2 separate regions of the Homo sapiens genome follow, and region 2 is linked to region 1. Evidence: fine-mapped expression QTL. Tissue or cell type: whole blood. Region 1 holds a variant in brackets; the other region holds the start of a gene. All regions are shown on one strand. Distances are between the middles of the regions.

The links. PIP is the estimated chance that this variant, and not a neighbour inherited with it, causes the effect.
Region 2: DAPP1 starts here. The variant in region 1 is fine-mapped to the expression of DAPP1 in whole blood (TOPMed, PIP above 0.99).

What each region holds. Positions count from the first base shown.
Region 1 is chr4:100,013,051-100,018,870 of GRCh38, reverse strand. All of the region lies in intron 1 of H2AZ1-DT (H2AZ1 divergent transcript), which reads right to left. Among named protein-coding and RNA genes, the nearest start is that of H2AZ1-DT, 65 kb to the right of the region's middle. The variant C/T (reference allele first, on the strand shown) is at 2,768.
Region 2 is chr4:99,813,915-99,819,324 of GRCh38, reverse strand. DAPP1 (dual adaptor of phosphotyrosine and 3-phosphoinositides 1) reads right to left here and starts at 2,498. Exons shown (of 9, transcript NM_014395.3): 1 at 2,311-2,498. The coding sequence starts at 2,411.

The sequences.
Region 1 (5,820 bases):
TTTATTATTTTTTCTAATTTTAAAAAGCCTAAAAAAAAGTGGAAATAAGATATTTTTTAAAGCCTCTATTTTCTTCTTATAAACAATAAATATTATTTTTTATATTTTCCCATCGTTTGACCCTTTGGTGTTTTTACACATGATCTTTTATCTAGGTTCATTGGCCGATGTCTTGTGAAAATATCAATCTTTTGAGAAATTGCTTTATCTTCTTTCTCATTTTGATTGTTTACTTCTTAAAATAACTTACATAGCTTGTGGTATAGGAGGTAGATACTAAACAAACAATAAAATATGCAAGTAAAATTACAACTGAAATAAGTGCTACGATCAAACCATAGGGAGGTGCATTTCTTCATATCTTTGTATCAAAGAGCAAGGGTTAGCTTTTGGTAAGGTGAGGCTGAAGAGGGAGATAGAGGACAAATTGTGAAAAGACTTGACCAAACGCCATGCTAAAGATTTTGGTCTTCATATTTAGAGCAAATAGGAAGTCTCTGGAAGGTTAATATATGAAGGATAGGGAGGAAAGAGAAACATAATCATTTTGAGTTTCAAAAATATTCTGACCACAGTATAGAGTTGCAGTCTCCAATATGGAGTATACAAGATGTTCCACTGGACAGCAAGGACAAAGTGTTCAAACTTGTACAAACACATATTAAAAACTTAAGCTTCATTAATATTTATCCTAGGGATTCACTTAGTCAGTATGACAGGTGTCATGACTCATTTAGGGTAGCTGAGGTAATGTAAGGAAAGGATGAGCGTTCCACAGTGTTGACTTTCACATATTGACTGTGCCTCTGTTTATGTATGCCAGGTTAAGTAGCTTTATGAATATAGTGCTAGTTTAACTGAAATAATCTTCATAAAATAGACATAATCTTTAAAAGACTGCTGTAAAAAAAAAACCCATGTGATGAAGTAATATTAACATTGTAAGGCGTGGCAATTAAGAAACTTCCCTGGGTTTCTGACTTGCATGACTCCAGTCACTGGAATAAGAGAACTAGGTTTATGTGTATTACATTAAAGACAGTGCAGGGGCCCATGACTTTCGTTTGGATCATATGGGGCTCAGAGAAAAACTGTAAAGCAGACTGTTGGGTGTGAGTGTCTGGAATTTACAAATGTCTATACTAAACATTGAGTTGTCTAAGTACAGGTGGTAATTTAGGATGCATAGGCTTTAATGAAATCTTAACTTTAAATATCAAAATTTCAATTTTTGAGAGCTTCAAATCTCTCTTGATCTGTCTTTTTCTATTGTCTATAATTAGAATTCTATATTTACTCTGATGCTTTTAAAGTTTTTCTAAAGTTAAGGGCAAATGTTTTCAATCTTAGAATTTTTTTTAACTTTTTAAAAATAAGTAAATGTATTAATGCCATTTTACATGGGTGCTTGTTTAAAAGAGGCATTTGAAATCAGCTGTTTCACTTTTTAAAGTATGAAATTTTCAAACATACAGAAAATGAATTAGATAGATATGTACCCACCAGCCACATTTAACAGGTTTATATTTTGCCATATTTGCTTCAGATTTTTTCTTAAAGAAATAAAGCATTACAGAAATAGAAACATATCTACCCTCATCTCTGCCCTCCTCTCTTCCCAGGTGTAACCACTAAACCTGTATTAGAGGTTTGACATTCTAATGCATGTTTTTAAGGAAGAATGGGCTTAAGTTTAGCTATATCAATAGGGATAAATCTTTAAAATAAATGATACAGTTAAAAAATGAAGTTGAATGATACTTTAGTAGTTCACATGGTTAAATAAGAATACTAGTTAACCACAATAGCATTACCAAGGCTAACCAAAACATCACATTTCTTCATTCTTGGTTGGAATTTTTCAACCAGTATTGTATATGTATGTATCAACAATGAACAGAAGCCAGAGATTATTTTTAAAATTGTAGTTTGCTTGGTAGAAGTCTATTAAAACATAAAATTCTTTAACAGTAAAATTTGTACAGGATGCTAAGTGGGTAGGTGTGGTGGCTCACACCTGTAATTCCAGCACTTTGAGAGGCTGAGGCAGCAGGATCACTTGAGCCCAGAAGCTGGAGACTAGTCTGGGCAACATAGCAAGATCCTGTCTCTACAAAAAATATAAAAATTATCTAGTAATGGTGCATGCCTGTAGTCCTAGCTACTCAGGAGGCTGAGGTAGGAGGATCACTTGAGCCTAGAAGGTTGAGGCTGCAGTGAGCCATTATCGTGCCACTGCACTCCACCCTAGGTGACAAGAGCGAGACTCTGTATTAAAAAAAAAAAAAAAAACACCATATGTGATCCTAAGTGAAGTGAGGAAAACACTGGGACAATTTCTGGTTTAGAACATATGCCTGGCTACACAATATTTGAGTCCCTGACTATGGTTAGTTAAATCTGTAAACTTGAGGACATAATTTGTGCTAAACTCTGTGGTTACAAAGATAAACATATGACCTAAACCTTGCTTTCAAGCATTTCAAAGTTGCAGAGCAGAGATATAAACAAATCGTGAAACAGCATCATAAGCATTTTAGTAAAAATGCGGAATGTATAAAGTTCCAAGGGAGAGGGGGCAGTATCTACCTAATTCTGCGTTGTGGATTTCTTTCAGGTTTTGCCATCAATATAACCAACATTTTTGGTCTACAGAACAGTTAACACATAATATTGCAATGCTCTTTTTCAACTGGTTTTTGAGGCACAGAGAAAAGCTCTGTCTTGAACATAGAGCACTGCTGTCCTTCTAAGTAGAGCTTCGGGC[C/T]GGGTGCAGTGGCTCACACCTGTAATCCCAGCACTTCGGGAGGCCGCGGCAGGTGGATCACTAAGGTCAGGAGTTTGAGACCAGCCTAACCAACATGGTGAAACCCCATCTCTACTAAAAATAAAAGAATTAGCCAGGCATGGTGGTAAGCGCCTGTAATCCCAGCTACTTGGGAGGCTGAGGCAGGAGAATGACTTGAACTCAGGAGGCAGAGGTTGCAGTAAGCCGAGATCATACTACTGCACTCCAACCTGGGCAACAAGAGCAAAACTCCATCTCAAAAGAAGAAAAAAAAACAAAGCAGAGCTTTGACATAAGTAACTCCAGTTCTGTGTCATAAATCATCAAGTAGATGAGCACTCAGGTTTTGTGTATGGGAAGCAAATAATTTTTATATAAAAATGAAACAAATTATGAATGACCACTAAGGTATCTTATTCTTTATGTCTAAGATATATTTTATTTTACTTAATTATCCATCAATTTTATTCTCAATTATTAGTCTCAAATTACAAACTTTGATATACACAGTTAATTATATTTCAAACTAAATGTCTAAAAACCTTAGTTCTCAATCACACAAGCCCCTATGTGGGTATATCAGGGCACCAGAGAGTCTGGTGAACATTTTAACTGAGTTCCAAACATTACAATTACACTAGCAAAGTGCTTACCCCTTGTCTCCTCTGAATCCCAGTGCCTTGACCTATATCCCATTCCTAAAGGCCTCATTCTAAATTCACTCTTATTGTCACCTAAGAAGCAGTAGGCCAAATGAAAGAGAAGGATAGAGGAGATGGGGAAGGAGGGTTGGCTAAGGGAGGAAAGGAAGGAAGAAAGAAGAGAAGAAGAAAAGGAAAAGGATTTGAGCTAGAATGCCTACTCTGTCCTTATTTTTTTTAATTAAAAACATTTTGATATGTAATATTTGTACATATTTATAGGACCCATGTGATTCTAAAAAAATTTTTAAGGGTACAAGTGATATTTTGAAACATGCGTACAATGTGTATTGTTATTTAATCTCTGGGGGTCAGTTTTCTCATCTGTAAAATGGGGGTAAAAATACTTTCCCATTCAGGTTTGTAAAGAGTGAATAGACTACAAATAAATTATTTAGTTGAGCACCTCACCACATTGTAGGCCTTTCAAAATAACTATTATTTATTGAGATTTTTATCTTTATGCAGCCCAGAAGCATTAGTAGGCAAAAAAAAAAAAAATCAGGGAAGTCTTTGGATGAAAGAAATTCATACGTAATGATGGAATTGTTAATACGTGTGTCATACAGCAAATGGACGTGAATTCCTCTGCTTCTACCATTTACTGGTTTTATGACTTTGGGCAGGTTGCTTAACCTCTGAGCTTCCTCTACCTCATTCCTTAAATGGGGATTATAATGTTAACAAGTTTATAGTATAAGATTTGAAAATTAAATGAGATAATGTGCACAAAGCACTCAGCACAGTGCCTGCACACAGTGAGGGCTCACATTAACTGCGCCACTTTGCAGTCTGGACTCACCACTCTGCACCTGAGAAACTCCAGAAATCTGTTCAACACCCGAGTTTGCTTTTCACAACTTTTGTAATCTTTTTTTTTTTAGACAGAGTCCCGCTCTGTCACCCAGGCTGGAGTGCAGTAGTACAATCTCGACTCACTGCAACCTCTGCCTCCCGGGTTCGAGCAATTCTCCTGCCTCAGCCTCCCAAGTTGCTGGGACTACAGGTATGTGCCATCATGTCCAGCTAATTGTTTTTTGTATTTGTAGTAGAGACAGGGTTTCACCATGTTAGCCAGGATGGTCTTGATCTCCTGACCTCATGATCCGCCTGCCTCAGCCTCCCAAAGTGCTAGGATTACAGGCTAAGCCACCACACCCAGCCAACTTTTGTAATCTTGAACAAATTGCTGTGTTCCTGGGCCTCCGTTTTCTTATCTAAACACTTTTAGAAAAAAGTGGAAAAGTGAGATAGATGAACCATAAAGCCATTACAGGGATTAAGTAAGAAAATATATGCAAAATCACACATATCATAAAGCCTTATATGAATGTATGGTAGCATTTGATCATGCCAAGTATTCATTTCTTTAACCCTCTCTTCTCTTGACATATGTGGGATATTCTTCTCTTTCTAGCCTCTAAATCTCCATGTTCCCTTAGGTTTCTTCATCAAACTTTCTCTGACCTTGTTGAGTTGACACACTTTCCTCCTGTGCTCTCAATTCACATGGCTCCAGACAGTACCATATGTGAGTGACACCCAAGAATCTATTTCCAGGGCTTCTGTCCCTTCTGAGCTTCTGATTCAAATCCCCACTTGCACATCCCACATAAAATTAAACTTTTCCAAAATTAAATTCACTATCTTCTGCCTTAGAACTCACTTTCACTTCCTCTAATTCAATGAAATTCAAGTCCTATCTAATTAAACTCCTAGTGTCTCAAAATTCACTTTTCTCCTTCTTGTCACAGACCTAATTCAGACCACTACCATCTCACCTGAATTATTCATTGGTGTTTTAGTTCGTCTCCAAGACTGTCCTGAGCCCTCCAACCCATTCTATAGACCACAGACAGTGTGAATGAATTGTCCCCAAGCCAGGGTTAGATGAGCTTCCTTTTCTTCAGTAACAACATGTGTACTCACCCCCATTGCAGTAACAATGATACTCCCCTGCCCATCTATCCCCATACACATACATTCACATTTTATAATTTCCACAAAGAAAAAGACATTTTGTTTATTTTCATTTATTTTTGTGTACCTACTACCCAGCTAACTGCTTCATACACTGTAGTTCTTTTAATGTTTGAATGAATAAACGGAATAAGTTTGAGTGGAGCAGAATTTGAACTCAATTTAATGAATTTACTGATTATCTCTAGTTTGTCCTAGCTTCAATTCATCAGGAAAAAACAGTGTAGGGCACTCAAATATTTATTGAGGAATATAAAAACATAAGATACATTGATAAATGACAAAACTGAAATAGCTGAAAAAACACTAAAAATAACCAGAGATAACAATTTTGAATTTGCCTTTGCACTG
Region 2 (5,410 bases), 200 kb after region 1:
GGCTTTCTCCACACCCCAACTCTTCCCAGCTGTTTTTCCAGCACACTGTTGAGTATGCTTAAATAAGCCATACATCTGAGGGTTCTTTTTGGGAGAACAGAAATGTCCTAAAACTGATTTATGGTGATGGTTGTATCACTCTGTAAAGTTAGTCAAAAGTATTGAATTGTACACTTGAAACGGGTATATTTTATGATATGTAAAATAACCTCAATAAAGTTGCTAATCGAAATGCCCCTAAACCAACAAACAAAATATCAACATTTATTAGTAATTTTAAGATTCAAGTACACACCCAACAGACTTAAAATGAAAAACAAGACCACATTTACCTAATGCATTTGGTAGATACATATTCTATGCAGTGATCATCAACCTAGGGTCTCACTTTGGAATTACTTGGAGAGTTTGACAAGAAAACACCCATCCCCAGAGATACTGAAATCATTTGTCAAGTCTGTGGTTTGGGTGTCAAGATGTTCCAGAGCACAGCCAAGGTCAAGAACCAGGACTGTAGAGCAGTTTTCCCAGATAACTGCAGGTTGCCCATTGCTATAGAAATCATCCTCATGTTTATTAATTGTTCACGCCTTCTGAAATAGGGAAATCTGGCCATGAATGTACCCTTTTTTTTTTGCAGGGAAGTGGTGTGACTCAGTTTTGTATTCAATGTCTATTCTTTGCACATGGAGGAAAGACACAGTCCTATTCCACCCGTGGGTTTCACCTGTAGTTGCTTCTTGCTGTTGACATCATGGTGGGGCACAGAGACAGCATCTAATTCATCTTTGTCATCTAAGTGTGTTCCCACAGTACTCAACCATAGACTCTGGGTTCTAGGATTGTTTGTTTAACTAAAGGACCAGAATTGAATATATTCCTCTATCTCCTCCTTTGGGGTTTTCTATTACAGTGGGCTGGGAATACAGTTAACAGAACATGTAAAGCATTGTAACTTAATAGTTCAATAAGACACTGAGGGCCACAGTTCAGCTTTAGCTTTTGGACTTGGTGACACCTGTGCTGGATGCTCACAGAAGGGCCTTTTACCTCTTCTGTTTGGGGATTCAATCTAGAGGGATAGAGAGATTCTAGAGCTCTGGCTTCCTAATAAGGGGAGTTTTCTTTAATGAAAATTCCAGGTGTTTTATCTGATTTGCCAAATGAAAGTAGAGTTCAATTCCGAGACCTCAGTTTTATAATCTAAAGACAGGAATTATTAATAAACTTTTACAGTAATACAACATAAAAAGATACAATCTCTGCAGCCTTAACACAGAGAGATTTCAACTCTATTTTGGTTTTTCTTTGGTTTCGGACATAGCCTGTGGTAGGTTGGATGCCCAGCTTTGCTATGTAATTGATGTGTGACTAGCAAGCAAGTTATTCAAACCTGTTTGGTACTTGTTTTCATCCTTTGTAAGATGAAGATGACAACAGCTCCTATGTCATTGGATTGCTATGAAGAGTTAGAGCTATTTGTCCAGGCAGAAGGTAAAGGTTTTGCCTCTCCTCATGCACAGGTGTCAAAGCCACCTTCATTGGGATATTCCCAGTGCATTAGGCAGTTTCTCTGGGAAATCCCCAATTCCTCTCTTGTGTAATACTTGTTTCTTATTAAATACCCGGATGAGTTGTCATCTGGGTCCCTTCTTAAAGACAGAGCTCCAATGACTCCACCTACCTATGCTTACCTGTTTGAAGCAGAAATTTTATCCTCTTCCTGGATTGTTGGTACTGAAAGGCTCAAAGTTGGCTCTCTGGACATACATACGATATCAAATCTCACAAATGCAGTATCAGGAGAAAGAAATATACAAGCGAGACTGTTGCAGGAACTTCCTCATTCTCTGTCTTTTGAAAAAGTCCCTCTCCCTTACAGTAGGGTAAGCTTTCTGTTTATCTTACCAGAAACACAGTCCTTTTACTGTCCCTGGGTCAGTGCTAGAAACTCTTGAACAGCGCATTTATTCATAAACCAGAGCAACATCAAGGAAGCCAGGCAACATCACCTCTATATCCCAATTCTGTCCCTCTTCTCAAAGAATGTCCAACATTTGATTTTTTTCCCTATTTTCTCAACCAACTTGTTTTCACATCTAGAAAAATAATGCCTGCTTTTCCAATGGAATTAGCCCCAGACAAGAAGATACTTAACAGATACAAATGAATAAAGTGGAAAAAAATAAATGGTTGAGGTGGCAGAGGGCAACAAGGCACTGAAGATAGTCATTAATCAAAGCATGCAGGTGGGAGTGCGGAGTCAATGTCCACCCACTAGGTACTTTGAAAGGAGATCTGCTGCCTTACCCCAAGTCCTGGAGCAGCTCAGCCTCTCCATCGGATCTGCTCCACAGATCTGAGGGATCCTGGGTGCTCATCTTCCCTTCTAGAAGTTCTGCTCTGCCCATTCGCGCCCTTCACAGAGGTAGAGAGAGAGACACAACTGGGCTGCTCCTGACACCTTCTCGCTCTGTGAGACAGCAGCCTGCTATGGCTCTGAGTCTCCAAGGCAAGGAAGTGAAACTTGGTTACTTACTCCTCCCACCAACACCACCACCCTGGCCTGGAGGCACTGGCAGGAGTGTTCTGTCAGTCAGGAAGTATGCAAACTTAGGTAGCTACCTCTGAGGACACCCACACTACATCACGCAACAGGCGGTTGCTATCAAAGGAAATGAAGAGGCAACCACCCCACCTGGGATTGGACAACAGTGCAAACTGCTTGTGTGAGGCCAAACCCTAGCTTCTCCCTAATGCTATCAGCCTCTGGTTTGTAGTGGAGGATGCGTGCACTCTTTTACCCCATCTTCTTTCTGTCTTACACACCAACACAGGGAACACTGAGGAAGCTTCTCTATCAGGAACACCTTTAGAGTGGATAGAAAAAGCAGAAGCAAACCACAAATTCGACCCTGAAGTTTGATGTTTTAGCACTTTTGCAATATTTCTGCTTGTTTACCCAGACCTTCTAATATATCCTCAATGCTCCGAATAGGGATGATTCAGAGACAATTATTGTTTCCTCCACAGAAAAAGAATTAGGAGAGGAGAAGGTAGGAAAAAGTTACAAGGGGCCATTCTGGTGCCCACCTAATGGGGCATATTAGAACTCCTGGAGTCTTTTTTTTTTTTTTTTTTTGAGACAGTCTCGCTCTGTCACTCAGTCTGGAGTGTAATGGCATGACCTGAGATCACTGCAACCTCCACCTCCCAGGGTTCAAGTGATTCTTCTGCCTCAGCCTCCCAAGTAGCTGGTATTACAGGCACCCGTCATCATGCTCTGCTAATTTTTGTGTTTTTATAGAGACAGGGTTTCACCCTCAGGTGATACACTCACCTCGGCCTCCCAAAGTGCTGGGCTTATAGGCATGAGCCACTGCACCTGGCCTGAACTCCTAGAGTCTTTGAGTGCCACTTCCTTCATGGGCTTACTCACACCTGCATGGCTTTGTGCCCAGATTCATATGTAGAGCAGGATTCTATCTGCCTGGAATGCTAAAGGTAAATTGCAGTGACTGAATCCTTGGGAAGTGGAACAAAGTGCAGTATCAAATGAGTCAAGGACATATGTTGCTTCCTGCCTTTTCTATGTACCTACAGGTCTCTCTCTCCCTCTCCCTTTCTCTCTCTCTCTTCCTATCTCTACTCCCTGACTCATTCAGCACTCACCACAGTGCTCTGTAACTTGTTCTCACAGTGTGGCCTGAGGACTAAACAGCACAGCAGAACTGTTCCTAAAGGACTAGATGATTGCAAAAGGCTGCTGTGCAATGGTTCTATCCTTCATCTTCCTCCCTATTACCACTGTTCACCCGGGATCGGTGAGACCCGGGTAACACTGGTTGCCAGTGGGAAGTTCCTGAGTGTCTGGAGGCAGTCTGCTGAAGACTAAGCTCTGATAATACATATATAACTGACTAAATGAGCACTTAAATTCTTTTGGCTACAGTTTGCTCACAGAGAAGGACAGGGCCCACTTGAACAGAGAGGCCAGTGCAGGCCAGGGAGATACTGAATATGCATACAGCAGTGACAGGGGAACAGCCTGGGCACTAGAGTTCCTGTTCCCTCTCTAGAGCCCTTTATTTGGTGTTTTAGTATCTATTTCATTCCCATTTTTAGCAAATTCTGGTTGTTCTTTTTCTTAACTTTTTTGGAAGTACAAGTAGCAGAATTTTCTAAGATCGTCCTGCTTTTCTGGCTGAATCTTCCTGCCTTTTGCCCTTCCTCATGTTGCTGTCCTGTCTGTTGCCCTCTCCTTTGATGTCATTGTCCCACTTTGTCATTTACTCAATTTTTCACAGTATCCCTACCACCCCGCCCACTCCACTAACTACACACTTAGTTTTGCAGTGGTAACAGCTGCAGGAGGCTTGCTAGATAGTTTCAACAAAATGCTGGAGCCCATCCCTCCCGGGACATCTATTGCTGTGTAACTGAAAGGGGATTTAGAATCTTGTTCTGGGCCGGGCGTGGTGGCTCATGCCTATAACCCCAGCACTTTGGGAGGCCGAGGCGGGTGGATCACCAGGTCAGGAGATCGAGACCATCCTGGCTAATACAGTGAAACCCTGTCTCTACTAAAAATTCAAAAAATTAGCCGGGCATGGTGGTGGACGCCTGTAATCCCAGCCACTCAGGAAGCTGAGACAGGAGAATGGCGTGAACCCGGAAGGCAGAGCTTGCAGTGAGCTGAGATCATGCCACTACATTCCAGCCTGGGCAGCAGAGTGAGACTTCGTCTCAAAAAAAACAAAAAACAAAAAACAAAAAACCTTGTTTTGGAACCAAGGCCAGCATCATGTCTGTTCTTATCCTTCAGTGCCTGTGGCATGCTAGTTGTATATTTAACAGGTATATTGAGGTACAATTTGTATATCATAATGTTCATTTTCCTTAGGTGTACAATAATTTTGAGTAAATTTGCAGAGTCGTGCAACCATCATTGCAATACAATTTTAGAATGGTTTTTATCACCCCAGAAGATCCTTTGTATCTGTAACAGTCTAAATACCACTTCTGTTTTTAGCTCTACCTGAAATTATATAGAATATTTGCTTACTTGTGGCAAATTCTCTTGATGGATAGATAGTAGATAGATGATAGATAAATAGATAGATAGATAGATAGATAGATAGATACATACATACATACATACATACATACACACATACATCTCCCAACCCACATGCTCTTCTGCAATGTGACCTTGCTGCTCCCTGTCAAGAGGCAGCACCTAACTCCCCTCCTTTGAATCTGGCCTGGCCTCTGTGATTCACTTGTGACCAATAAAATGTGGTGGAAGTGACACTGGATCACTTCTGAGGCTAGGTCAGAAGAAGCCTTGCAGTTTCTATTGTGGTCTCTTGGAAGGCTCACTCTCCAAATGTTACTTTCAGGGGTTCCC